Linked DNA regions of Homo sapiens. The protein of the gene in region 3 purifies or fractionates together with the protein of the main gene of each other region. This does not show direct contact. Each region holds a gene or a part of one and is shown on either strand. Other genes may lie near its edges. The genes, in order: NOTCH2, TSR1, PDIA5, TSPAN7, ACAD11, SLC35G2 and MBL2.

Region 1 (3,500 bases), on a different chromosome or scaffold from region 3:
AAAGAGAAGAAATCCAGTTGAAAGCTATTTTTCACTGGGGCTTCTCAGCAGGAGGCCTGGCTCTGTGTTTCTTGAAGCAAGTGACTGAAAGAAGGCCCAGAAATTTAAAGGCTGAATGTGTACAAGTGCAGGGGTATTCTGCATAAAAGACACCAAAATAGGATTGAGAGTCAAGTGTGTAAATGACAGGAGAGAGAGCTCTCACTGGGAAAGTTTGGGTCCTCTTTGCTGACTTCTGCAACTAGAGTCAAAAACGATCTGTGCACAAATATTCTGCATTTCTGGGTTTGTAATCACATTTTGTACTTGGGATTGGATTTCAGTAAGCCAGATGTTCCCTATTACACATTTCCTTTTACACAGGCAAATATTATACAGAAAGGCTAGAAATTATTAGAAGTGAACTTCTTTATTATCTGACTGCTTGAGAAAGAAGTTATTTATGTAATTCAAGACATTAATTTTAGAGAATGGAGTCTTAAAGATTAAAGGCATCATGCATATAATTTATTTCTGATCACAGAAAAGCAAATTTAATTGTGAAAATTAATACAAAAAGTTAATATTTTAATTATTAGACCTACTTAGTTTAGGACAACTCAGATGAGCCACTTTCTTTCTTTTTGCAAATAGTTAATGCTTGTCAGAGAATCCAGATTTTGTCTTCCCCTGGCCAGATTCTTCTTGTAGAGGATAAGTTTCAAAGAGATTAAAAACCTTTAGCTCAGGTTTAAAAGTGGGGGGAGGACTCCTGGAGTCTTTTAGGGAAAGATATAATGTTTGTCTATTTACACCTCGAAGAAAGGAAATCTTACTTGTCTCTTTTTCTTTTAAATTCTCATAACAGGTTCATTCATTTTATTCAACCAGTATTTATTTAAAACTACTATATATGCATACTACTCTCAGAGGAGTTGAGAGAAGTAAAATAAAGCTCTCTTACCTCCAAAGTCAGAATTGGGGACATAAGATACATGAAATCATTAACCTGTATATTGGACTTGGGAAGAAAGAAATACAAAGATAAATATATAAAGGAAAAATATTTTGAGCTGTTATACCTGAAGCCTAGTAAGAAATGAAGGTGCAGTTAAAGCATCTCTGCAATGAAATTATTGATCAGTTGCGAAGGTATTTCAATTCTAAAATTTGATTTGGAAATCTTTATTTTAAGCACCTCTCTCCAGGCATACTTTCTAAATCAATGCAGATCGTCGTTTTCTACTGCTCAAGACCTGCAGTATTAATTGACCACACATCGAATGTGTAGAGTAAATGGATGTAGCTACACTTGTGTTCTGGTGTGGAATATCTGCCTTGGTCTTTGAGAATCCTTGATAAAATTCTTTCCAAAGGTTTCACTGGTGTGTTGTGTGAGGAGAACATTGACAACTGTGACCCCGATCCTTGCCACCATGGTCAGTGTCAGGATGGTATTGATTCCTACACCTGCATCTGCAATCCCGGGTACATGGGCGCCATCTGCAGTGACCAGATTGATGAATGTTACAGCAGCCCTTGCCTGAACGATGGTCGCTGCATTGACCTGGTCAATGGCTACCAGTGCAACTGCCAGCCAGGCACGTCAGGTAAGCCCACTCTGTTTATGTTTGGTATGGGGTTTTCACTGTTTCTCAAATCTGTTTACACAGATGTTTCAGACTGTTGGCATATGCTCAGATACCTAAAAAACAGTCCTGATTCTGAGAAGCACAGCCAAAGCCACAAACATAAATGTCTCAAGGCAAATGGCCCTAGCCAGTGGAGAAGTCAGAGACAATAGCTCTGCCAATCTGATGATTTTGTGTGTGTGTTTGTGTGTGTTTTGTTAAATAGAGGCATACCACTTCAAAAATTAAAATTAATGATTTAAAATTGAAAACCCTCTTTTTTGTGGCTATATTATCTTTTTTTCTTTAAGTTCCACCCCACCCAGATTAATAAATTCAGTCCTTCCTTCCTTCCTTCCTTCCTTCCTTCCTACCTACCTTCCTTCTTCCCTTCTTCCCTTCCTTTAATGTATTTTCTCTTTCACAGTTCAGTCTCTTTATTGTGACATGTTTCTTCAGTCACTTGTCTCTGGTGGGGCCTTAGCCATCTTGGGGGATTCTAAGGAAGAGGAGATACCTTACAACACACCACAGTAACTAAAGTAGAACGCAGAGCTGTCATTTCCTATCCTCGGAGTTCATCATTGTTCTCTGACCTTGGTTGAATGACTCCTTGTTGGTCGTGAGGACATGCTGCTCCTTTCTGGGGGGATGTGGAATTATTTTCTCAGGCAGCAGCATCTCACAGGTTTGGATGGTTCTGTTTTACTTATTAGATGAATGATTATGGTCACAACTATGGTTAGTGGACAGAGATGTACTATGTTCCAGATCAAAGGAAAATGTATTAGTGGAAGATTAACCAATGTGTGCCTTTGTTAGAAGGAAACCTGCCAATATAAAGGAGTGATTTATTGAGAACTCATTCTGGATGTAAGGAAAATGACCTATGTAGAGAGCAGAGGTGGAGAGGGTAGTTAGCTACCCTCATTTTCTTTTACTGTTTCCAAATCCATTTCTTCAAATTTGTCAAAGGCTCTGGTCTTTACCCAAGGCTTCATACATGCCAAGTTTGAAAACAAAGTCCTTTTTGAATTGCTCAAGCATACGAAAAACATCCCATGCCGTCACAGCTGAAAATGCCTTTCCCTCCCCACATTTAGATAACTCACTAAAAGGGCTGAATAGATCTTTGTGAAAACTTCCAAAAGCAATTTGCTTCCGGGCTGTTCCTCAGACATGAGAAATTATAGTAGGAAAAGAAATTTGAGAGATTTACAAGCAATTGACTGGATGTCTTTAGAATCGAGGGGCTTTAGACTTTGCTATCATTCCCATCATAATAAACATACTGGAAACCTGGGTGAGTGGTGGGTTGGCAAGCACTTTGTTTTCTCTGGCATTATATCATTATACCAGGATATATCAGGTGTTTTCTGGGGAGGACAGAGAGGGTATGGTATAAGTAGCTGTCACTGAGAAGGTGAGAAGTCAATATGAGTGATCTGTAGGCAGCATGGAAAGGAAGGCCCGGAATCTGTCAGAACCTGCCAAAGATGTTCCTGCAGTTATTTGGAGAATTAAAGCAAGCAACGGTCAGACAACATTAAAAAAATGTTGATCTGTAATGGGTGGAGAAAGACCTGGCATGTATCAGGGACCTGGGTGGAAAATCCATTAAAAGAGGCATTATGAATAGAGTCTGAAGTTCTAGAGTAAGAATTCCTGTTCCACTTATATGGCCTAAGTTGGTAGTTTGGTGTTTGGATAGGGGAGTGGATGGAAGAAATATTTTACAGTTTGTCAGCTAAAATTGTGGTAGTCACTCACTGGGTACTTAAAGTGAGATATACTACCCAGAGTTACCTTCAGTGCGTTCTCTCATCTGTGCTTTTATGATAGTAAAGTTTTAAGTAAGTTTCTTTGTGTTTCAAGTAACAGACCAACTTG
Region 2 (2,281 bases), on a different chromosome or scaffold from region 3:
CAGAATCTCTTTGAATCCATTACTCCATGCCCCCTTGAGGCACTGTTGAAGAAATCTCACTTTTCAGCCAGGGTACTGGTTCTGGTACATATGGATCATAAGTCCATTTGGGGAAGACTCGTTTATACAGGTTCATCAGTACTGTGTCTTGAGATTTTAGCTTCCCATCAAAGCTGCATTTCATGTGGCCATGGGTACCTAGAAAGACATCAGAACAAGTCGGTCAAATTAAAAGTAGAAAATTTTAAAGCAATGACTTCCAACCCAACAGTCATTTAGCAACACTGCAGAAATGCAGACATGGTCTCAAATCCCGTGTTTCCTTACCTAAAGGTTCCTTGATATGTCCTCTCCGGCCCCACTTCGTTCTCAGTTCCACTGGTTTAAACCACAGCACATCCTCTTAGAATCAAACACATTAAAGACCAAGATGAAACATTTACCCACAAAATGTAAACCCAACCTTTATACCACAAAGGCAATCAGATCCCATCCTCCTCCTTCATACCCACCTCTGTTGAAGAACATGTAACGTACTACTGCCATCTTAGTAAAAATTTTGAAAGGATGACCACTCAGAACAACTCTCTTGATGACCATTCTGTCTGGATCTACTGACATAAGATGGCCTGTAGCAATGAGGCTGTGCATTCCTAAAGGACAAAAGCAAAGAAGCTATTTAGGAATTTACAGGCCAAAGTCTTCATTTATTGCCCAGTCCATTTAAAGACCCATGCAAGAGCCTGGTTTGTCATCCCTGCCCTAGCCCAATCTGAGGCTAAGATTGGTAAACTGTAAGCCCACACTTAACCTTGTCAATAGGTTCTTGAAAACTTGTACTTCAAGAGAAATGATGTATAACAAAACCATACTTTTTCTCATCAGTTGTTACAAGGAAAGGATGTTGAACAAAAGGCAGTTATTTGAGGACTGGCTATACACTGTTTCACGTAAAAGTTGGAGTTTTCATTGTTCTATTAACAATGTTAAATGAAGACTTACTGTATTTTGAAAACCATCATTACCTTCTCCATACCATTTGGCTCCCAAATTTAAATAAACAAGAGAAAACGGTGTTCATCTATTAAGGACCTGCAGGGTCTGTTCATCTCTGTGGCTCAACTTACCATTGCTTTTTTGCTTGAAAAGCAGCACAGATGCAGGAGGAAAAGTGATTGGCGCATAGACTGTCGCCACCAGGGCCATGTCAGCAGTCAGGAATCTCTGCAATTTATGTTTGTCCGCTGCCATAAGGGTTAAAAAATGAAAAGCAAAACCATTTTGAGAAACCAGAGGTGATAGAGGCCTGTGAAAAGCTGTATTAGTGCAACTCTTAAACCTATGGCAGCTTCTACTTCTCTAAACCACCAGTTCTCAAAAATTTTCGCTGCCTCAATGCACCTAAAAGATACGATCTAGTCCTATCAGTAACTTTTTTTTTTTCTTTTTTTTTGAGTTTGAGTATCGTTCCTGTCACCCAGGCTGGAATGCAATGGTGTGATCTCAGCTGACTGCAACCTCTGCCTCCCGGGTTCAAGCAGTTCTCCTGCCTCAGCCTCCTGAGTAGCTGGGATTACAGGCACATGCCACCACGCCCGGCTAATTTTTGTATTTTTAGTAGAGACCGGGTTTCACCATGTTGGCCAGGCTGGTCTCGAACTCCTCACCTTGTGATCCACCCACCTCAATCTCCCAAAGTGCTGGGATTACAGGCGTGAGCCACCGCGCCAGGCTGTATCAGTAACTTTTTATTTATTTATTTATTTTGAGATGGTGTCTCGCTCTTGTTGCCCAGGCTGGAGTACAATGGTGCCATCTCTGCTCACTGCAACCTCCACCTCCCAGGTTCAAGTGATTCTTCTGCCTCAGGCTCCCGAATAGCTGGAATTGCAGGTGCCTGATCAGTAACTTTTTTATCTGGAGTCAGAATCTTGGAGCCTAGACTGTATTTGATGTTCTACCTTCAAGGTAGCCCTCACCTCCTTTTTAAAATACTAAACTTAAAGGAAAATAAAATATTTTAAGGCAAAGAAAAATTAATCTCACTTAGAGATTGTGATTCTCACAATTGGTGAGAATAAAAATTATCCAAAACACCATTAATACTGCTTTCTTCATATTCCTCCTGCCACTGCTGAGAGTGAGTGAACTAGGACGATGTTCAGAAGCCCCCAAGTTAGTGGGCAACATATCTTCCTGCTCCTACTGTGTAGGAGACAATCATTTCTGCTGCAAGTCCCGTCCAGTAGTCTCTCAGTATCTCAGGACCCCTACCTCTGCT
Region 3 (3,500 bases):
CATTTGGGGCTACGCAGCACAGTGTCTCCCCTTTTTATTCCCCATGGCACAAATGTTGCTGTCAACAATGGACAATTCAGGGGCAGGGCAACTTATCTGAGAGCTTATGAAAACAGGTTTTCTTATCCTGAAATTGCAACTGCAGTGCATTTAGCCAGGACTTAAGTCCCTAAAGCTTTTAATGTTTTGGAAAACCTCTTCTTGAGCCAAGAGGGGTCTGGATCACCGCCAGCTTGGTGTGCCAGGCCTGTTAACGAGGAAGAACTGGTAGAGGGAACATTGAATTAGGCAGCAGGGAGGGAGGAAGAGCAGGTGAATTCCCACTCCGGAAATCAACTCTGCCTCCAAGCTCCGTTAACTGATAAGAAAATAACAACTCAGTGTTCATGACCCACGGTGTACATCCATGCTTTTACACACATGATCTCATTTCATCCTCTGAAGCTGAGAGTCTAAGCCACTGTTTCCACCCTTCAGGTCTCAACCCAGGAGTCTAGTCATAAAATCAGTGAGTTACAGTAGCATTTTTAAAAAATTACATTGACTAGAAAACATCAGTGAGTAGCACAGGTAGCAACACTATGCATTCAGTGAGCCCAGTGTGTACTGGGTTACACTGTAAAATGTATAACTGTTCTTGCAGGAGTTGAAAAATTGTCATAAACAATGAGTGTTTATAGGCAGAGGTGGTACTATCCCCACTTTAGAGATGTGAAAACTGAGGCTCAGAGAAGGGATTTGCCTCGGATTAAGCCTAAAACAGTAGAGCCAGGTCCCCGCCAGGACAGATCTGATGCTTTTCTCTTGGGCTGTCAATGTGAATAGTTCCCACAGACATCCCTGGAGCATCATCCACTCCCCGTTGCTCCACCCAGAATAATACCCGAGAGGCTGGCAAGTCTGCTGTCCCTTCCAATCCAGCTATTGAGCGTGACCTGCTGAAAAGAGCTACAATGACAACCTGATCCATCTTCCCTCTGCTACCAGCATGTCCACAAACCCCCAAATCCCTTCAGAGAAAAGCACATGCTCAGGCCAAGTGACACCAAGCAGACAATGGTGACACAGCTCCAATGTGAGCAGAACTTGTGCTACACACTCAATTGAGAGCACCCACCTCGGCTGGCAAAATACCACCAGCCATATAAGATTAACTTGGAAATGTGTCTAGTTTTGTAGCTTTACCGCAGAGCTCGGTATTCTGGGAATACAGATTCCTGGGCTTTATTCTTGAAGAAAAACATCTCCAGGGGCTGGGAGCCCAGGAATCCATTTTACACATATCTCCTTAAGGTGAAGAAACTCCATCACTGACCCATCTTTTAAAAACTCTCTCTCTGGACCCCATATCACTCCCCTCTCCACTCACAGCCAGAATTTTCCATCTCCCCTGCTCCTCCCATTCTCCTCCCTCCTTCCATTGCTCATCCCTCTGAAATCTGCCCTCCCCACAACCACCACAAAAAAGGCTCTTGGTGAAGGCTCAACAATGACCTCCTATAGATAAACCCTACAGGCACTTCCAGTTCTCATCTTGTTTGGCCTCTTGAACTGGATGCGACACTTGGTTTCCCTCCTACCTCTCTAGCAATCATTCCTTTCTTCTTTGTAAACCCTCCTCTCCCCATTCTTTCAATGTTGAAGTTCCACAGCTCACTCAGTCTACCCTCTCTTCCTACCCTATATGGTCCCCCAGCCAACTTCACCCACTCTCCTGAACAGCACCCCTAAATTAACATCTCCAGATCAGACCTCTCTTCTAAGCAACACATCTTTACGTCCTGCTCACTCAGCAGTTGAACTGGAGTCAAGTACAGTTCTAAAATGTTAAAAGCCTAATTCTCATACAAATAGGTATTGAGCATATTTCAAAGTTTTACTTAACTCGCTAATAAGAGACCCTAAAAAAGAGGATATAATCCTGATATAAGATTGCTACATTAGATACCAACAGGTTAATGTCCTTCAGGGCAATAATCTTTGTGCTTCTCTTCTTTACCAAACAGAAATAATTTGCATCCTACTTAACTTTACAAAGTATGGCCCATAAAAAATAATAAACAGAGTTACATCCCCTAGAACACAGCTGGTCCTTAGGTGGTTTCTTATACAATACTCCAGTATGATACTAAAATGTCACAAAATCATCTTTTATTTCCAAGTGTTATATAATTTTTTTCCACTGTAGTCTACGAATTTGGATGGAGAAAAATGACATCTTTATCTTCACTAACCTCTAACTGAAATTTAGCCTTTCCTGTATTATGAATGTATTTATAAATGTATAAATGCTTTCTACATTTATGAATGTAGATAACAAATTACAGTAGTAATTAGGGTAGCAGTGTCTGTGACTTTGCCACCAACAGAAATCATATTTTCTTATCACATTACAAGATATCCTGAAACACTATTTATGCTCATCACAACTTAAAATTATAGAAGTTATCAAGCTTGTACCTTTGATCTTTTTATATGATGCATTAATAAACATAAATATTATTTTATCACAACCTTGTTGTTATATTTTGATAACTGTATTTCAATAAAACTGCTTTCTTTGTAATTCTATGCATTTTACTTTATACATTTAAAAACATTATTCTAAGAAAGACCCAGAGGTTCTCAGAGAAGGCTTTCCTGACTCCTTGAATTAGGTTAGGGATCCCTGTTATACATTCTCTTACCACATTATATTAACACTTTCTCTTTCCAGCACTTACTACCTGAATTAAATAATTAATCAGTGGCTGTCCCACTAGGCCATGAGAGAAAGAGATGGTGTCTGTCTTATTTATGGTTATCCCCAATGCCTTAGCATGAGGCCTGGCTCATAAAAGATTCTCAAGGAAATATCCATTTGGGAAAAAAAAGAAGTATCTGTTGAATGAATGAACATCTGTGGCACATGTAGGATGCTGATGTTGGTCCACCTTCCTTTGAAATAGGGGCATGTACTAATACTCTGCCCAGGACCCAGTAAGACTAGACCCTGTGATGAGAACAAACCCACTCGTTCCTCAAGACCCTTCCCTACTTGGCCCAAACAACAGAGCTTTCCTACCAGGCCCACATCTGGGCTCAGATACTGGATCACCTTTATGTTTAAGCCCCAGTTTACAACCCTCAACCTTGATTTTCATCAACATCTTCCAACAAGGATTAAAGGACCTGCTCACGACTTCCAGAAATCTGCCTGCGCCAAGGGGTTGGAGGAACTGTAGGATTCTTTGCAGGGAATGGACACTCCACCCTTGCGCCCCCGCAACTCTAGTGAGCTGGAAACTCTGAAGCCAGACACAGGCCCACCATCACACCATCTAGGAATGGAATGTGCATCAGACTGGGGCCTCAGTATGACTTTGAGGAATAAAGGCTCTTTTAACCCCACACTCCATGAGTGTCTTCAACCCCCCAATGTAAGATCACAAAGCTAATTATTTAGAAGTGGTTGCAAACTGGTATGTGGAAAGAGGCCCTGCTGATGTAGGGTGGCAATA
Region 4 (2,938 bases), on a different chromosome or scaffold from region 3:
CTGGGGGGTGGGGCCCAGTAACTGGTGTTTTAACAAGTCTTCCAGGGCAGGGAACTGCTCATCCAGTCCACCTAGTCACCCTTATCTTATAGGTGAAACACCTGCTGCCACTTCAGGTCCCACTGTTGGTCAGGGCAACACCTGAACTCCATTCTCCTGGCTCTTAACCTATCCATGCAGGTTCCAGTTCTCATCTCTTATCTTCCTTTTTCAAATTAAAATTGTGCTGTGAAATATGCAAACTATAACCGCTTTCAGGTAAGGAGGCATCATCATCTTATTGGACTCGTTCTATCTCCTACCAAGGCTCTGGCCAACATCATTTGGTGCCATAAAATACATAGTCGCATGCACTTACTGCCAAGTGGCTGAAGATACCATGGCTGTAACCTTTAGAATATTCTGCCAAATGAGAAACTAAAATATGAGTGTAACGACCTTGAACCTTATAGCTTGTCTTTTTTATTAGAACTTCCATTTTCCAGAACCAACAAACACCAGAACACACTTGATAATGTCAAAAATCAAATAAGTGTCAGAGGTATATAACACATTCAGGTAGAACAGATTACAGTCATCCCTTAGTATCTGTTGGAGATTGGTTCCAGGACTTCCCAAGGATAGCAAAATCCTAGGATGCTCAAGTCCTTGATACAAAATGGTGTAATATTTGCATATAACCCATGCACATCCTCCTTTATATTTTAAGTCATCTCAAGATTACTCATAATACCTAATACAATGTAAATGCTGTGTAAATAGTTGCTATACTATATTGCTTTTATTTGCATTATTTTTTGTTGTACTGTTATTTTCAATCCATAGTTGGTTGAATCCATGGATACAGAACCTGCAGATACGGAGTGATGACTATATTGAATATCCAGGCTGGAGTGCAGTGGTGCAATCTCGGCTCACTACAACCTCCACCTTCCAGGTTGAAGTGATTCTCCTGCCTCAGCCTCCTGAGTAGCTGGGATTACATTTGTGCGCCACCACATTCAGCTAATTTTTGTATTTTTAGTAGAGATGGGGTTTTGCCATGTTGACCGGGCTGGTCTTGAACTCCTGGGCTCAAGTGATGTGCCTGCCTCAGCCTCCCAAAGTGCTGGGATTACAGGCATGAGCCACTGTACCTAGCCTGTACTGAATATTTACCACAACCTGTACAATATTACAATCTCAGTTTTCCAGATAAGAAAACTGAGGGTTATGAGAGGTTAAAGAATACACCCCAAGCTACACAGGTAATTCTCAGAGCTTAAGGTTGTACCCTCTTGTCCTATCTAAGAATAGCCCCAGCTCTGTCCTGCCCTCTACATAGAAAAGGTAAACAGGTCTTCTCAAGGGCCCCCCAAAAGAAAAGAATGACCAGCACATAATGAATCACCTTAGCAGCATTTAGACCCTGGAGGAGGCCAGACAGGAGGGTGAGGGTTAGAAAATGGATGGGTAGTAATAGGGTCTGTGTTTTCTTATGAGTACCTTTTCCTTTTGAATTTCACAGACTGAAGTCTTTTTGTTATAAAAGCACAAAATGAATTCCCTTCAGGTGCTATCAGTGGCAGGAACAAGGGTGATCTCTGGCCTTAAAAGTTAATACAGCAAGCCAGGTGAAGAGGTCAGAATTATAATCCTGGATCTATAGTAGCTGCCCAACTTCAAGCGAGTCACTCAACCCTCCCCTTCTGGAAAACAGCTCTACTGTCTTTACTCAGGACTATAATATTACGTGATATGGGGAATTAATCCAGCCTAACAGGTTCCAAGTCTAGCAAAGCCCTGGGTCTATTTAGACACAGAAGTACTAAATACAGAAGCCCAGAGGACACCCCACCACCCCACCACAGACACACATGCATATGTACATATACACAATGTCACAAATTGAACAATAAACATGTCCATGCCCAGACATCCCATGGCTCTTGTCTTCCAGGCCATTTTGGGGGTGGGGATAGGACAGGGGTGATGTGCGTGCATGCTCCATCTCTCACTCTCCCCACAAGCCCTCGAGTGAAAGAGCAGTTGCCAAAGATGCAGCGAAGAGGTACCCTACTAAACACACTCAACCTTCTGCTATAAATTTATAGGGCAGCAGACCCTGCCCATCAAGTCCAGACAAATGAGGTTTACCTTGAGAGGGCAAAGGTAATGGACGTTTGTAGAGAGAAGTGTTTAATGCTTGACACAACCCTGCTGCTGTTCAAAAACAGCACTCAGGAGCTTTCAATTAGCTAAGTTAGCTAACAGGGGACAAAGTTCTTGCCCAGTCTATTAAAAGGCTAGACCCAGCTTAGTTTTCCTAATACTTTATACCACCTTTAATCTTTGAGACAATAGATGTGCATGGCCAGTTTCTTCCAAAAGATGATAGCACGGAGGTCACAAGAGCAAGCAAAGCAAAGGGCAAGAAAAAGGTCGAGGGCAGGAGAGCAAAAGTGGGAGGGAGGAAGAGAGAGAGCGAGCTCTGTTCTTTCCTACCTACTTTGTCCTCTCTGTGGCCTCTAACTTAGTAGAGCCTTCTTTATTATAGGAAGGCTAAGGCATAGGCCAACACAACTGGTTCATCAATATCAGCCAACATTTGCTAAATTTTACTATGACATTGGCTCTAAAATTTCTGAACACATGTAGCCAAAGGTCTGGTTCCAGGTCACTGACCAGAATCAGTAGGGCTGGTTCTTTGTGAACAGGCATCTGGTAAGTGGCCACCATTGTCCCAGGGATGCCCTGGATCTATGGACGTCTGGAAGCCAACTTCAGCTTTCAGGACCCCTGAGGCTGACAGCACCATAAATAGCTGCAGTTCCTGGTGCATCTGGCTGGCAGAAGCCAGCCATAGCCATTTCTCTTCCTGCCTGAACCTGGGAGCAGGTCTCAAGTCTCTGCCCTGCTGGACCTGCCTGGCCACATGGGTGAGCAGTATGGGCACCAT
Region 5 (3,500 bases), 9.6 Mb from region 3:
TATTTAGATTGATAGAGAATTTAAAGTCCAGAAAGCCTTGTTTTCAATTGGATTCCCCGTTCCCAAGCCTATACTGTACTGCAGTGATACTTCTGTCATTGGAACAGAATTTTACGTAATGGAACATGTGCAGGTAAATTAACACTTAATCTTATTTTGTTGCTTTTACTTTTAATTATGAAGTTAATTAAGATGTTTTATTATGATACTTAATAAATGATATAGTTTGTTATTTAACATTTTAGGTAATTAGATTGCATTGCAAAGGTTTACAATTTTGTTCAAATTTGAGCACTTACAAAGGGAGGGATGGAATAGACAAGAAACAAATTTAGTAATTAGGGGGTATTGACTTATTCTTAAATTTTCCTCTAGGTGTCAGTAAAGAGCTATCTGTAATGGCAATAACCAAATTGTCCATAAGGTAGCAGGGAAAACAGACTCCACATAGGTCAAGCCATTAAGAACAATAAATTCAAAATGTGTTTTAAATTTTTTCTGTAAAATAGTTGAGAGTAGTTTTGATGTTTATATTCATCTTGGCATATCCTTTTATTTTCCCTTTGGCATGTATACTCTAATATTAAATATGTTTCACAAATGAATGTTTTTCTAGTATATTCGACAAAGTATTGATTATACACATTTAAATAATCTGTTGTAATCACTTCCATAGGGTCGAATCTTCCGTGATTTAACAATTCCTGGACTTAGCCCAGCAGAACGTTCAGCCATATATGTGGCCACGGTAGAAACATTGGCTCAGTTACATTCCTTGAATATACAGTCACTGCAGCTGGAAGGATATGGTATAGGTGCTGGGTACTGCAAAAGACAGGTAATGCATCCACATTAATAGCTATTTTTTTCAAGTTCTTGTAAATAATATACCTTATTAGTCAACAAAAAAAGCTATTATTGTATAGTTTTCTGAAGCTTGGCCATGACTTTTAACATTGTCCTTCAGAATGACTAGTTTTTAGTATAAAATTATCTTATGTTTTTATATTAGGTTTTGTTCAGCAAAATCTTCTGTTTTAGACTCTTAATTTTCCAATACTTTTAACTATACAGTTTTTTCTTCTTCTTCTTCTTCTTCTTCTTCTTCTTCCTCTTCCTCTTCCTCTTCCTCTTCCTCTTCTTCCTCCTCTTCTTCCTCCTCTTCTTCCTCTTCTTCCTCCTCTTCTTCCTCCTCTTCTTCCTCCTCTTCTTCTTCTTCTTCTTCTTCTTCTTCTTCTTCTTCTTCTTCATCATCATCATCATTTTGAGACAGAGTCTCCCTCTGTTGCCCAGGCTGGAGTGCAGTGGTGCAATCTCTGCTCACTGCAAGCTCCACCTCCCAGGTTCACGCCATTCTCCTACCTCAGCCTCCCGAGCAGCTGGGACTACAGGCTCCCGCCATCACGCCCTGCTAATTTTTTTGTATTTTTAGTAGACATGGGGTTTCACCGTGTTAGCCAGGATGGTCTCAATCTCCTGACCTCGTGATCCGCCCGCCTCAGCCTCCCAAAGTGCTGGAATTACAGGCGTGAGCCACCATGCCCGGCTTACAGTTTTTTCTTTCTCAATTGGACTAGCAGACATTTATTAAGCTTGACTGTGTGTTTAATACCTGCTGAGTACTGTGTTAAATATCAAGAAAAATATACAATAGGTTCTTCCCCACAGGAACTTATGGTCATTTTTGAGAGACCTGTACATGCATGTCATTCACGAAACCTGAAAATGGTATAAAAGAGTGTAAAATCTAGTGGTAAATTGTTTGATACTCACCATGATTCAAAGGGTGGAAGTTGGGATGCCCTTGCTTATATAGAGAAAGCTTCCTGGGAGAGATATCTTATAATGAGTATTTAAGGAAAGATAAAATTTGGAGTGATGGAGATCATTTTAAATTAAAGGAAAGCAATACTAGATATATATGGGGCTGCTTTCCTTTGTAAGCATATCATTTTGTGGGGGTTAAGGAAGAGAAAAGGGAACTAAAGTTTAGAGTGTACTCACTATATGCTAGGTCCTACATGGCAGAGTGAGTTGTCGGCCTCTCTTTTTTGATCTTTACAACAACTCTAAGATATAGGTATTATTACTCCCATTTTGCAGATGAAGAAAGGGAGGCTTGCATCAATCAAGTAATACACAAGTAAGTGGCTTAGATATAATTTAAACCCAGGTTGATATGACTAGATAAGACCAAGTAAAGGTCTTTGCTCTATTGCACTAAGTTGAGCAAAGATACCTCGGGAAATGGAGATAAAAAAGCAAATAAACAATATGGTCCCACCTGTTGGAGGACTTTACGAGTAAGTTGATTTGTTTGCATTCAATTCTAAGAACAATAGAAGATCTTTACACTATTCATACCTGTAAAATATTTAGAAAATTCTGTGGGTAATAAGAAAGAGTATTAAAATGAAAAGTAGGCTGGGCGCGGTGGCTGAAGCTTGTAATCCCAGGACTTTGGAAGGCCAAGGCAGGCGGATCACGAAGTCAGGAGTTCGAGACCAGCTTGACCAATATGGTGAAACTCCGTCTCTACTAAAAATACAAAAATTAGCTGGGTGTGGTGGTATGCATCTGTAATCCCAGCTACTTAGGAGGCTGAGGCAGGAGAATCACTTGAACCTGGGAGGTGGAGGTAGCACTCCAGCCTGGGCAACAGAGCGAGACTCTGTCTCAAAAAAAAAAAAAGTAAATGTCTTCTTTTTTCTTCTAGTCCCCATATTCCCTTTTTCAGGGGTTACTTATTTCTCGTGACCCTTTCCAGAGATTATCTATGCCTATATATTTGTGTGTGTGTGTGTGTGTGTGAGAGAGAGTGTGTGTGTGCGTGTGTGTGTTTGTATGCATTCTTTTTTTTTCTTCTACAAAGTAGTTGCTGAATAAAGACTAGAACCCATATCTCTTGATCCCTAGGCCAGTATTTTTCTCTTGATAAAAAACTAGGTAAGTAAAATGGAACTATATGGAAAAGAGACTTAAATGTTTAAGGTTTAGGCTGATTTGAGTGTTTTAGGATGACAGGAGTATCACCAGCATGGGTCTTAAGTATTTAGGAGTAAAACAGCATTTGAATTTTGTTTTAATTTTAGAATTGCTAGATCCTACATTCCAGTTTCAGCTTTACCATTTTTCTTATTTATATGTCTTTAGGTATCAACCTGGACAAAGCAATATCAAGCTGCAGCTCATCAGGACATCCCTGCCATGCAACAGCTATCGGAGTGGCTAATGAAGAACTTGCCCGATAATGACAATGAAGAGAATTTGATTCATGGAGATTTCAGACTAGATAACATAGTTTTCCACCCTAAAGAGGTACAGTTAGCTATGTTTACAATTAATTGAGTAGGTCTGTTTTGTGACACAGTACTAAGTAAATGCTCCCCCCAGAGCACTGAGGGAGCCCAACCCACTCCCTGTTCCCCTACAGCTCAGGACTGTCGTCACCACTCAAAATTTTTAGAAAGGAGTCCTGCAGATTTTCCAGCATAAGTTAG
Region 6 (3,132 bases), about 14 Mb from region 3:
CCCTACCCCAACGTTAGGTCTCCAAACATCAGGGACAAAATGGCATGGGCTAGGTAGGACTGGCAAGAATCCACACTTCTCCCTATTTCTATTTCCTATGTATCGCCTAATGTGCTCATAATAAGGAGAAAACCAATTTCCTGTTCTAACTTTGGACAGCCACCCATTGTCATTAAAAAACCACTTATTTTCCCTTCTTTCCTCTTTTCTTGCCTCAACCCAGGCTCCTTTACCCAGCCCTATGACTTCTAGTTTTCTAATGCAAGTAGATGACAAAACAGGGTTTGGTGTTCAACATTTCACCTTATAGTGTATTTTTCACAAATGAAGGAGTTTTGTTGAACATTTGTAGAACATTTCTAATTTTTGAACTTCAGTTCCATCTGAAAGGGGTCATTTCTTTGAGTCTTCTATTATTTAGTAATAGCAGTTAACATTCTCCTTCTACTACAATTTACCTGGAAAGACACCCATAAATACCAATAAAGATACCAGATTCATAACGTATTTCATATATTTAATATTTGTATTTGAATATATTAGACTAGAATAAATTTTCTGCATTTGTATATATTATATATTTTATAGCACTCTGTCAGTTATATAACACAAAAGACATTCATAGGTAAACATTAAAATGGCAGTATACATAATAACTGAACATTAATGAGACAATAATAATCAGGTATTCATTTAATGGGAGAGTCTAGTATTTCCTGGTAGTCCTGCTTTCTTAAATTCCTCCAGTAAAGTTTATAGCCAGCAAGGACAAAAACACTAATCATAATGATTACCCCTCCAAAAACATCATAGATGCTAGGAAATATGTGCAGCACGAGAAGCTGCAAGACCATAGCTACCACAATCTCCAAATGTTGTACTGTGCTAACCAAAGCTGGATGGAATTTGTCCAAGGCATAATAAACTCCTAAGAATGCTGCAGTAGAACAGACACATATAGCAATGAGATAACTCCAGGTTTCTCCATCTAATGGGATGATGGGTTCTTGAAGAATAAACATAGTAGATATTCCCCAAATTGTCCCAGTCCAACCAAAAGTAAACAGTGCAGTCCACATGCTGATCTTCTCCTTGATGGATCTGTATACTATCATTGAGAGAGCAGTGGTCAGTCCAGCCATCACAGTCATGGTGTACCCAAAGGCTTCTTTCCAGGCATTTAACAAAGAATTGTCTTCATCAACAATGTTTGGGATCATGACAAGACAAACACCTAAGATGCTGCAAACAACTGTAGCCATGTCAACATAAGCCATTTTCTCATCTACGAGTAAAAAAGCCAAAATGGCACTGAAGACTGTAGTTGTGGCTCTCCACATAGTGGTCCCATTGCTGGGAGGAACTATTGAAAATGATGTATAAGCACAAGTGATAGAAATGACATTGCATACACCATAAAAGAAGAGTCGTAATCTGTATCCACTGGGTCCAAAGGGGGCCTCCTGATAGTAACACACAACTAACACAGATAAGACCTGAAAAACAGAACGGATAAAAATCAGTTCTAGAGATGGAACTTTAGACCGATCAGAAACAAGCCTAGTGATAAGAGCTACACATCCATGAGCCAAAGCAGATCCAAACAGCACTATCCACATTTTTCGGGATTGAAAAATGTTTTTTTCTGCAAAGCTCTGGAATTGTCCAATCTCATTGATCATTGGGTCTTCTGTTGGTGGAGGTAGGGTATCCATGGTTCCAAAGAAAGCTCTCCCTTTTTTTTTCATTTCACTCAGCAGACCTTTCTTTGGATTTTCCTCCATAAAATTTCCATAGCCTTCATTGATTTCTTCATATCCATCATCGCCAGGCTGGGGATAATGAGAAGTATATTTCACCATCACTGTGTTGGGATGTATTTTCACCCGTTTTTTAACTGGATATTTTCTGGAGGGAGAAGTATCCATTTCTTCAGATAATCAATTCTATTTAAAGAAAAAAATTGACAAAAAGACATTCATTTCATTGAAAATTTAATTTCTATTATAATCATATGCATCAATTCAATGATAGAAAGTAGAGGCTGTAACAGTAGTCCAGAAAAAAAAGAAATTAGAGATGATCTGGCAATATGCCTTATCAGATGTATGGTACCTACTGGAATTGTTTACCCTTTTTTCACTCTCATCTGAAGTCTGTCTCCATTTCTCTTTGCTTACTTGTTTAATTCAGCTCTATCTTCTATCTTTATACCACAAACGGATTTTTCCATCTTTTCATTCCTACCTGTTTCTCCACCTATCCAACAAGCAAAACACAGAAAGATAAATAATAACTTAGGTCAAACCTTTCCTTCTCATTGGGTCCATTTGCCTGTTATAAATTATTAGTTAAGTCCAAAGTATTTTGTATAATCAATTCTGTATAATACCAGAATTCACCTTATAAATTATAGTGATTTTTAAACATTTATTCTGGACTCCCCATAAGTTTTGAGATATAAAAATACACTGAAATTAGAACATAAATAACATGAATTTAGTAACACTCATGCATTGTTGGTAGAAAGGTTAAATTGTACAACCTCTCTCGTGAACAGTTGGACCATATGTATTAAGATTTTAACTATCCTCTACTCAGCAATACCACTTTTAAGATTTTATGCTAAAGAGATGATCACAAGATGCTTTTTACATTCTGAATAAAAAAGGGGGGGAATAAGAATACGTATTTATATTTGTTTACATAACAAAGAAATTATATAAAGATGCCAAGAAAACTAATGGTGGTTCAGGTGACAGGAGGAACAAGAATGGAAGAAAACCTTTTTGTTATTTATTTTTTTACATTTTTATTTTTGAATTGTGATATTATCCAAAAATAGAATTAAAATGTTTATCTGTTACTTAAGAAAAAGAATATACCAAAAAATGTGGGGAAAATGTACATACAGGAGAGTTCATTGTAGCTTACTACAATGAATGTTCATACAATGGAATACTATGCTATCTATTAAAAATGACAGTGTAGGCACGGTGGCTCACACCTGTAATCCCAGCATTTTGGGAGGCTGAGGCGGGCGGATCACTTGAGGCCAGAAGTTTGAGAGGAGTTGGCCAGCCTGGCCAACATGGTGAAATGCCATTTCTACTAAAAATACTAAATTTAGCC
Region 7 (4,215 bases), on a different chromosome or scaffold from region 3:
ATAATGTGCTCTGAGTCTTCAAGAAGCCTAAAGCCTATCTTATTTCTACTCTTGGGAATCCTGTAATCACTGCTATGTGAACAAGCCCTGTTGGATGATGAGAGATGTGGTTCAATTACCCTCATCACTCCAGCTAACATTCAGACAACAGCCAGACACATGAGTGAGACTATTGGCCATCAGTTGACCACAGACATGTGGGTAAGCCCAGCTTAAACCAGCAGAGAAATCACATGGCCGACCCACAGACTTGTGATTTAAATTGACGGCTATGTTTTTAAGCTATTAAGCTTTGGCTTGGTTTCTTATGAAGTAAAATATGACATACCATGGTTACATGCTTTTGTAAAAATAGGTATAATAAGCCCACACTTAGATGGCCTGTTTTCTCCCTCTAGGACCAGGGCCTCACATTAGACTGTTTCAGCTGATGGAGAATCCAGGCTCAGCTCTTACAGGGAGTGCCTGATGAGGGAGTTGTCTTGAAAAGTTTGTAAGTCTGTACTCAGGCACTTATAGGAATTCCCTAAGGCTCTAAGAATGAAGAGAGGGCTGAGGGCACTGGGTCAGAAAGCAAATTTGGGTATCTTCCTTTGAAGGAACAGGAGAAGGGGCACCTCTTACCAGATACTCAAGGTCTCAGAACCCTGGGTGAAGTCAGCTCAGACCTTGCTGGGGTCCTTACCCGGACTTTTTCCAGGGTCTCCTTTTTGGCCCTTTGGTCCTGGTGACCCAGAAGGCCCTGGATTTCCTGGAGGCCCCAACTTTCCAGGGGGGCCCTGTAAGCCTCTGAGCCCTTGGCCTGTTGGAAGACAAAGGAAATGTGACTTAATATCTATGTTCTTGCTCTCTCTCTTCAAGAGTTTGATGCCCAATCCCTTCTCAGGAGAAAGGAGACCTTGACCCAGGACTGACCTTTCTGAGCACTGCTCTCAATAACTGTATGGTGGGCACCTGAGAGCAATAACTTAAGAAATAAAGTTGCCACGTGGAGGTTGCTGCAGGGAGGGTGCAAAGTGAAAATTAACTGCATTTGTTTTTACCAGTAGTTGTTGTTCTCCTGTCCAGCCCACTGCTGCTGGATCTCCCTGTAAACAGATTCCCCCAGTAAAACCTATGTTTGTTTGCTGACTCCATCTCTTCTTTGGCCTCTTGAACCTGGTGCCATCCCTACTGAAGTGAATAGGGGTCTGACATGACAATGACCCAGAGAAGAAAAATTCATCCTGTGTCCCACGGGATGGCCTGACCTGTGGGCCACTTTCCTGGGCTGGCAAGACAACTATTAGTCACAAACTGCTGTGTGGAATTCTGAGATGCCAGAGAATGAGAGCTGAATCTCTGTTTTGAGTTACAGTATAGTTGAGAAAAATATACTCAAATAGGACATCAGTCTCCTCATATCCCCAGGCAGTTTCCTCTGGAAGGTAAAGAATTGCAGAGACAGAACAGCCCAACACGTACCTGGTTCCCCCTTTTCTCCCTTGGTGCCATCACGCCCATCTTTGCCTGGGAAGCCGTTGATGCCTGGAGAGCTACAGGCAATCACTGCAGGGCAGGTCTTTTGGGCATCCTCACAGGTCACAGTTTCTGAGTAAGACGCTGCCACCATACTCAGGAGAAGGAGAGGGAGTGATGGAAACAGGGACATGGTCCTCACCTTGGTGTGAGAAAACTCAGGGAAGGTTAATCTCAGTTAATGAACACATATTTACCGAGCATGCCCTCTGTCCTACAATCTGGGTGCAGGCTATATAGAAATAGATGACCCATCCCTGGCCTCTAGCTGGGGATTTGGAAAAGTAAACATTCCTTGTGACACTGCGTGACTAGTACTTTAACAAAGGTAGGCACTATGATGAGCAGTGGGGATCCTAAGGAGGGGTTCATCTGTGCCTAGACACCTGGCGTTGCTGCTGGAAGACTATAAACATGCTTTCGGTGGCAGTGAGAACAAATGGGACCGTGCATTGCCAGCTGGCTTATGCCTGTTAGCTTAGGGAATGAGAATGAGTGGAAACCCAGGTGTCTGTAGGAGCTTCCTCTTTCTCTCCATGTCCTCTTCGGGTCCATCTGCCACCTGAATCCCATCTTTGTATCTGGGCAGCTGATTCCCCTCCAGGACCTGTTAACTATCATTTACTCATTGGCAGGCCCTGAGCTGAAAGCTGGTGATCCAAAGAGGAAGGTCTCAACCTCAGATCAACCTCAACCTTAGTCACCAACCCAGCCCAGAATTAACTGGAGTTTGCTTCCCCTTGGTGTTTTAGACAGGCTTGCCTGGGTAAGCATTTTCTCTGGAAATTTCTTACTACGTTGGCCCTGGCAGAGTGCTAAATACCTCTCTACTTTCTGGCAGGAATTCCCCATGTTCTGTGAGTCAAAAACCACTGGCAATTAGAAAACTTGCCTTGAATCCTCCTCCCATTTCTCAGTATTAACCTTTCATTTGTTCTTCAGAGCTTTCTTCCAGCTATTGCCCCCTAAGAAACCTCAGCAGCCTAGCCCCATAGGTCTAAGCCTCCAAGTTTCCCTTTGAAAACAAAGACAGTCTCCACTGCAGATGAACAGATAATGGAGGAAAGTCACAGATGCTCCAGCACAAGCAGAAAAAGAGACATCCTCAACCTGATTTCTGCTTTCCATCCCACTCCCCCCACCCCTAGAAAGCCTCCTCCATGCCTCCAGGGTCATGTCAGCTCCCCAAACCCTTGATCCGGAAACCCAGATTTATTCACCAGAAATGACTTACTGGTGTTTCTGCAGAGCAGGGACTCAGTGACAAGGACGCTGGCCCTCTAGCCTGGGGCTCTGGCAGATGCCTCAGAGTGAGGGAGGAGGCTGGGCTCAGCAATGTAGGGCCCAATCAACCTTGTGAACAAGGATATCCTGGGCCTGGCCTTCAACTCCAGATTAATAAACAGCTCTTCTCAGAACTATGAGAAATTTAGGAGCCTCCAATACAGTGCTCGGCAGCTGTCTGCTTTAATACAGCACAATTCCTCTTTCAATTGCCATCCATTTTGGCAAATCTCATTGCTGAACTACCACAGCTAGGTTCACCTAGTTAGTCCTGTTGACATCCTTGTTTCCAACAGAAAAACAAAGATACTCACAAATGCATACACATGCTCATGCACACCAACTATACACACAGACACGTGCATGCACGCACACACCCATCCATGAAACCACATAGACCTCTTGCTGCCATTAATGCATTAAGGCCATTCCTGCCTCAGACTCTTCATTTGATGTCTCCATGCCTGGACCCCTTACGGGCATCGCCAGCTAGCTCTTTCTCTTCTATTCAAATATTCCAATTTCAGAGAAATCAGTACCTTGATCACTTATTCTAAAATAGTCCTACCTAGCAGTCTCTATCCTCTTAGCCTGAATTATTTTCTCTCATGTTACTTACACTTTATGATATTATAGTCATTGACTTTACTTTTCCAGTTTTTCATTGTGGTAAAATAGACATAAAATTTACCATTTTGACCATTATTATTAAGCACACAACTCAGTAGCATTAAGTACATTCACACGGTTGTGCTATCATCACCACATCATGGGATGATTTTCATCATCCCAAACTGAAACTCTCAACTCATTAAACTAGAATTCTCCATTTACCCCTACCCACAGCCACTGGTAACTTCTGTTTTACTTTCTGTCTCTCTGAATTCATCTATCCTAGGTACCTCATATATGTGAAATCATACAATAGCCCCCTTGTATCTGGCTTATTTCACTTAGCACAATGTCTTCAAATTTCATCCTCATAACAAGAATTGTAAACTGTGTTAAAGACTTTGGGTTTCCTTCCAGGGGGCACTAGAGGGACTGCAGTAGTGGAGAGGTGATCACATTTGAATTTTGCAAGGCTTGTTCTGGCTATGATGTTGAGGGGAACAGGACTGGAGAAAAGCAGATCTAAAAGGAAGTGCTTGCCATGATCTAAGCAGCAGAAGACAGTGGCCTGGGTCAGGGTAATGGCAGCTAGATTAAGAAGGTAGGCACACTTGAGAAACAGGAGGTATTGATTGCACTTGAGAATTAGCTAGAATAGTGAGTGATAATAAGAAGTTTTCATGGGCACACACATTTATGACTTGACTATCTAGGAGCCACTCAACTGAGATAAGAAGCAAAAGAACAGCACTTGGCACTATAAGATCATGGGTATCGTGTGTGTTAATGGCTTGAACCATC

What was found.
Region 1: the proteins of PDIA5 (region 3) and NOTCH2 purify together in Homo sapiens (co-immunoprecipitation; one large-scale study listed by IntAct). This does not show direct contact.
Region 2: the proteins of PDIA5 (region 3) and TSR1 purify together in Homo sapiens (affinity purification with mass spectrometry, with the first as the bait; one large-scale study listed by BioGRID). This does not show direct contact.
Region 4: the proteins of PDIA5 (region 3) and TSPAN7 fractionate together in Homo sapiens (co-fractionation; one large-scale study listed by BioGRID). This does not show direct contact.
Region 5: the proteins of PDIA5 (region 3) and ACAD11 purify together in Homo sapiens (affinity purification with mass spectrometry; one large-scale study listed by BioGRID and IntAct). This does not show direct contact.
Region 6: the proteins of PDIA5 (region 3) and SLC35G2 fractionate together in Homo sapiens (co-fractionation; one large-scale study listed by BioGRID). This does not show direct contact.
Region 7: the proteins of PDIA5 (region 3) and MBL2 purify together in Homo sapiens (affinity purification with mass spectrometry; one large-scale study listed by BioGRID and IntAct). This does not show direct contact.

Annotation. Positions count from the first base shown.
Region 1 is NC_000001.11:119,961,663-119,965,162, reverse strand, and holds part of NOTCH2 (neurogenic locus notch homolog protein 2 isoform 1 preproprotein), read left to right. Parts: intron 1-1,355; coding exon 1,356-1,589; intron 1,590-3,500. UniProt on the Homo sapiens protein: Functions as a receptor for membrane-bound ligands Jagged-1 (JAG1), Jagged-2 (JAG2) and Delta-1 (DLL1) to regulate cell-fate determination.
Region 2 is NC_000017.11:2,324,177-2,326,457, forward strand, and holds part of TSR1 (pre-rRNA-processing protein TSR1 homolog), read right to left. Parts: intron 1,245-2,281; coding exon 1,128-1,244; intron 1,089-1,127; exon of another isoform or gene 654-1,088; coding exon 513-653; exon of another isoform or gene 403-512; coding exon 328-402; exon of another isoform or gene 199-327; coding exon 20-198; 3' UTR 1-19. UniProt on the Homo sapiens protein: Required during maturation of the 40S ribosomal subunit in the nucleolus.
Region 3 is NC_000003.12:123,073,525-123,077,024, reverse strand, and holds part of PDIA5 (protein disulfide-isomerase A5 precursor), read right to left. Parts: intron 1-3,500.
Region 4 is NC_000023.11:38,683,542-38,686,479, reverse strand, and holds part of TSPAN7 (tetraspanin-7), read right to left. Parts: intron 1-2,938. UniProt on the Homo sapiens protein: May be involved in cell proliferation and cell motility.
Region 5 is NC_000003.12:132,639,310-132,642,809, reverse strand, and holds part of ACAD11 (acyl-CoA dehydrogenase family member 11), read left to right. Parts: intron 1-7; coding exon 8-133; intron 134-676; coding exon 677-838; intron 839-3,153; coding exon 3,154-3,318; intron 3,319-3,500. UniProt on the Homo sapiens protein: Acyl-CoA dehydrogenase, that exhibits maximal activity towards saturated C22-CoA.
Region 6 is NC_000003.12:136,853,257-136,856,388, reverse strand, and holds the end of SLC35G2 (solute carrier family 35 member G2), read right to left. Parts: exon of another isoform or gene 2,120-3,132; intron 1,947-2,119; 5' UTR 1,929-1,946; coding exon 690-1,928; 3' UTR 501-689; downstream 1-500.
Region 7 is NC_000010.11:52,769,985-52,774,199, forward strand, and holds the start of MBL2 (mannose-binding protein C precursor), read right to left. Parts: upstream 2,801-4,215; 5' UTR 2,753-2,800; intron 1,676-2,752; exon of another isoform or gene 1,661-1,675; 5' UTR 1,652-1,660; coding exon 1,465-1,651; intron 803-1,464; coding exon 686-802; intron 1-685. UniProt on the Homo sapiens protein: Calcium-dependent lectin involved in innate immune defense. Binds mannose, fucose and N-acetylglucosamine on different microorganisms and activates the lectin complement pathway.